Linked DNA regions of Homo sapiens: region 2 is linked to region 1. A link means that fine-mapping ties the variant in region 1 to the expression of a gene that starts in the linked region. Tissue or cell type: ileum. Region 1 holds a variant in brackets; the other region holds the start of a gene. All regions are shown on one strand. Distances are from middle to middle.

The links. PIP is the estimated chance that this variant, and not a neighbour inherited with it, causes the effect.
Region 2: it holds the start of ARSL, and the variant in region 1 is fine-mapped to the expression of ARSL in ileum (GTEx, PIP 0.94).

The regions. Positions count from the first base shown.
Region 1 is chrX:2,894,316-2,897,071 of GRCh38, reverse strand. No RefSeq gene overlaps it. Among named protein-coding and RNA genes, the nearest start is that of ARSD-AS1, 9.2 kb to the left of the region's middle. RefSeq lists an enhancer at 1-10. The variant A/G (reference allele first, on the strand shown) is at 1,246.
Region 2 is chrX:2,963,236-2,965,849 of GRCh38, reverse strand. ARSL (arylsulfatase L) reads left to right here and starts at 1,509. Exons shown (of 11, transcript NM_000047.3): 1 at 1,509-1,626. RefSeq lists an enhancer at 1,201-2,024.

The DNA.
Region 1 (2,756 bases):
TCTATAACATGTGCAGAAGAAAACAGAGGAGAAAGTCTTTTTCGTTTTGGGTTAGGAAAATAAGACACCAAAAGCGCGACCCATTAAAAAAATAAATAAATAAATAAATAAACTTGATTGAGTTTACCAAATTTCGGCTGGGTGTGGGGTGACTCATGCCTGTAATCCCAGCACTTTGGCAGGCTGAGGCAGGCAGATCACGAGGTCAAGAGATAGAGACCAGCCTGGCCAACATGGTGAAACCCCGTCTCTACTAAAAATACAAAAATTAGCTGAGCGTGGTGGCACGTGCTTGTGCTACTCGGGAGGCTGAGGCAGGAGAATCGCTTGAACCCGGGAGGGGGAGGTTGCAGGGAGCCAAGATCGGACCACGGCACTCCAGCCTGGCGACAGAGCAAGGCTCCATCTCAAACAAACAAAACAAAACAAAACAAAAATTTCTTTTTTTTTTTTTTTTTGAGATGGAGTTTTGTTCACTCTTGTCGCCCAGGCTGGAGTACAGTGGCATGATCTCGGCTCCCTGCAACTTCCACCTCGTGGGTTCAAGCAATTCTCCTGCCTCAGCCTCCTGAGTAGCTGGGGTTACAGGCATGAGCCACCACACCCAGCTAATTTTTGTATTTTTAGTAGAGACGGGGTTTCACCATGTTGGCCAGGCTGGTCTCGAACTCCTGACCTCAGGTGATCAACCTGCCTCAGTCCCCAAAAGTGCTGGGATTACAGGCGTGAGCCACCATGTCTGGCCTAAATTTCTCTTTTCAAAGGGGAAATTTGTACTTTATTTTTAGCTGTCGAGGAGCAAGTAAAGAGCTCCTCTTGTATTAGCTGGTTCTCAGTGTTTCAGCTCAAAGTAATGGGTATGTTGGGCTGGTATATTCTGGTTGCCAGCAGTCATGTTTGGGGACGTGTATCCTGAGGTCTGACACTATAAAGCCTCCTCTACTTGTCTTTCGGTCCCTGCCAAAATGCAAAGGGTGATGTCTGACTCCCTTACTAGGGCTAGCTCTGAATAAGTGGCCTCTGCTCATTTTCATTTGGGACGAAAACATTTGGGATGGGGGACGTCTCATTTATTTCCACTTGTTCTATTTATTTATTTATTTTGAGACAGAGTCTCGCTCTGTTGCCCAGGCTGGAGTGGAGTGGGGTGATCTCAGCTCACTGCAACCTCCACCTCCCGGGTTCAAGCAATTCTCCTGCCTCACTCAGCCTCCCGAGCAGCTGGGATTACAGGCATGCGCCACC[A/G]TGCCTGGCCAATATTCTGTGTGTATTTTTGGTAGAGACGGGGTTTCACCATGTTGGCCAGGCTGGTCTCAAACTCCTGACCTCAGGTGATTTGCCCACCTCAGCCCTGCAAAGTGCTGGGATTACAGGCATGAGCCACACACTTGGCTTTTTTTTTTTTTTTTTTTTTTTTTTTTTTTTTTTTTTTTTTTTGACACAGGGTCTGGCTCTGTCACCCAGGCTGGAGTACAGTGGCACAATCTTGCTCACTGCAACCTCTGCCTCCCAAGCTCTAGTGATACTCCCACCTCAGCCTCCCAAATAGCTGGGACCACAGGCGTGCACCACCACGCCCATCTAATTTTTGTATATTTTATACAGAGGAGGTTTTGTCGTGTTGCCCATGCTAGTCTCGAGCTCCTGGACTTAAGCAATCTGCCCACCTCGGCCTCTCAAATTGCTGGGATTACAGGCATGAGCCACTGTGCCTGGCCAATTTTCACCTGTTCTAAAGCAGCTGCTTAGAGGGCATGAGCTTGCAAAGACACAGCCCCTGAGCAGACTTCTCTATATGCACATAAGAAACAGCTAATGCACTGCCATCCCAATCCACAGCCAGACCTCGTATAATGGATAATCACCCTTCTCCCTGTGCCAGGATGTGGCCTCAGGGTAAAAATAATGAGTACAGCTGTGACATTTATTGAGTCCTTGACATGAGCCAGGCCTTGCTCTCCGTGCTTTGCAGATCACAGCTTCTACAATCTTCACAGCAATCGTGGCTCTTTCGCAACTGCAACTCCGTATCTTGGGGCATTTTGCCAATTTAGCCATTAGTCTATGAACAAAGCCACATTCTGATCAGGCTGAAGAATCAGGAAGGGAGAATGTGGCGGTGGGCTTTGTTCTGTATGTCACACAGCAATCTCGCTCTTTTACGGACATCACCTCACGTGGCTATGGCTCTTCTACTTCCCTACAGGGGACAAGGTGGGATAGTAGATCAAGGTGTTCTGCTCTCCCCGATCCAAGCCAAGGAGGAGCCAGGGTCTCAGGCTTGGATTCTCCCACGTTCACCCTGAGCATCTCACAACAGTAATCCCATAAAGCCACCGCTGCATGCTGTCCACAGGCTGTTCTTGATTTCGCCATTTTATAACACTAGCTCTTCTACGTTCCTTACTCTTCGAATGACCCCACACACTCACCATGCCTGGATGGTGTTGTTTAAGCAATCCAGGTTCATTTATGTTGCTTGTGAGGGGTTTCAGGACGTGCCGCCCCAAAACATGGCCCCTTGGCATTGGAGAAAACAGCAGAAGCGGGATGGTCTCTCTGACCTTCCTCTCATCTTTCTCTCCTGAAGCAGGTCAAACCACCCTCATTTGAAAGGTGCCTTAATACCCAGAGGAAAGAAACATCCTTAATTTCTTTTTAAAAAATTTTTAAATTGTTTTGTTTCCATAGGTTTTTGGGAAACAGGTGGTATTTGGTTACATGAGTCAGTTCTTTAGTGACAATTTGTGAGATTT
Region 2 (2,614 bases), 69 kb before region 1:
GGCTCACTGCAAGCTCCGTCTCCCGGGTTCAAGCGATTCTCCTATCTCAGCCTCCCAAGTAGCTGGGATTACAGGTGCACGCCACCACATCCAGCTAATTTTTGTATTTTTAGTACAGACGGGGTTTTGCCATGTTGGCCAGGCTAGTCTCAAACACCTGACCTCAGGTGATCAGCCCACCTCAGCCTCCCAAAGCGCTGGGATTACAGGCGTGAGCCACCGTGCCCAGCCCGTCTTTTCTATGTTTTTAAACCAAGCATTGCTTGAAAATAATCCTTTTTTTACTTTTTTTTTTGCTTATTTTTTTTCTTTTTATCTTATGTTTATTATTATTATTACTATAATTTTTGAGACAGAGTCTCTCTCCGTTGCTGAGGCTGGAGTACAATGCTGCGATCTTGCCTCACTGTAACCTCCGACTCCGGGGTTCAAGCAATTTTCTTGCCTCAGCCTCCCGAGTAGCTGGGATTACAGGCATGTGACACCATGCCTGGCTAATTTTTCTATTTTTAGCAGAGACAGGGTTTCACCATGTTGGCCAGGCTAGTCTCGAGCTCTTGGGTTCAAGTGATCGGCCCACCTCGTCCTCCCAAAGTGCTGGAATTACAGGCATGAGCCACTGCGCCTGGCCTTTTTACTTCTTTTGTTTGTTTGTTTATTTACTTTAAGAAATGTTTTCTTTTTTATTTTTATCTTATCTTTATTATTTCTTATTTACTTCATTTACCACTCAACAAATAACTTCTTTAAAACATTTTTTTTTGAGGCAGGGTCTTGCTCTGTCACTCAGGCTGGAGTGAAACTGCAGCTTCAACCTCCCAGGCTCAAACAATCTTTCCACCTCAGCCTCCTGAGTAGCTGGCAGTAGAGACACATGCCACCATGCCTGGCTAATTGTTTTATTATTTATAGAGACAGGGTCTTGCTATGATGCCCGGGCTGGTCTCGAAGTCCTGGGCTCAAGCGATCTTCCTGCCTCAACCTCCCCAAGTGCTAGGATTATGGGCATAAGCCACACTGCCCAGCCTAATATTTTTTATTTTTGAAGAGACAGCATCTCACTTTGCTGCCCAGGCTGCTCTGAAACTCCTGGCCTCAAGCAATCTTCCTGCCTCGTCCTCCCAAAGCGCTGGGATTACAGGCATGAGCCACCATGCCAGGTTGGATATGATCATATTATAGCCAGCACCCTGTGTAACAGCACAGGCAATCACTTAAAAACCTAAGGACACTGGCAGAATACGGTGACTCACATCTGTAATCCCAGCACTTCGGGAGGCCAAGGAGGGCAGATCACTGGAGCTCAGGACTTTGAGACCAGCCTAGGCCACATGGCAAAACCCCGTCTCTACAAAAAATAAAACAAAATAAAAACCTAAGGAAACTGACCACTGGTTTGGTAGACGTGGGCGTGGCTTTGAGATTCCCCCATGCTGCGATGTGGGGGGAGTCTGCTCTGTCTGTCCTAACTCTCTCTGATCTTCTGACTTGGGAAAAACAAACTCGAAGTTAATCATTCCCAGCTCAAAGCCTTGTGCAAGTGCTCTCTGCCTTCACGCTTGCTTCCTTTGGGAGAGAACCTTCCTCTTCTTGATCGGGGATTCAGGAAGGAGCCCAGGAGCAGAGGTGAGTCCTGTGAATGTTCATTTGTGCTGGATTTGGGCTCCGTGACCAGGCATGAATAGCGTGGTGAACAAAGAGCTCCCCGTTCCCTTTTCTGTCTCTGAATAATTGCCCAGTTTGTTTTGATAAAGCAGAAACGTACCCGTGACTTACAGGCCTAGGAATGCAGCTCTTTCCTGGAGAAGGGGGATCTGTTTTCTAATCTGCAGGAGAGGCCTTGGGCAGGCCCCATGCTCTGGGTCACCTCAATGTCACAGTTTCCAAAATTAAACTCATTCAAGGCTGTTATCACCATCTCTTTATTTATTTAACGTTTTTCTCCAAGAAAAAATATTCATATTTTTACTTATAAATACATAACATTGCGGGAGAAAGAAAAATTAGGTCGGGCACGGTGGCTCACGTCTGTAATCCCAGCACTTTGGGAGGTCGAGGCGGGTGGATTGCTTGAGCCCAGGAGTTTGAGACCAGCCTGAGCAAAAGAGGAAACCCCACCTCTACTTAAAAAAAAAAAAATCAATAGCCAGGCATAGTGGCATGTGCCTGTAGTTTCAGCTACTTGGGAGGCTGAGGTAGGAGGATCGCTTGAGCCCAAGAATTTGAGGCTGCAGTGAACTATGGTCGCACCATTGCTCTCCAGCCTGGGTGAAACAGCCAGACCCTATCTCAAAAAAAAAAAAAAAAAAAAAAAAAGGAAAAGAAAAGAAAAATTAGAAAAAGAGCACTTTTCCTAAATCTCCACACCCAGAGATAAACCACTGCTGGGCAGGATTGCTGCAAAAACCATCTTCCCCTAGTTTGTGGTGGTTTGGGGTTTTCTCATTACATTTGTACAGTATTTTGCTTTTATTCCGTTTTCTGACCATTGGCAGCATGTCATTGTAGGTCAGAAAGCAATGCTGAGGGTATTAAAATGCTCATTTTGGTTTTCTCTCCATGTACAATTTTAAATCAATCTCTTTCCCGGTGAAGATGCTATTAGGTTGGTGAA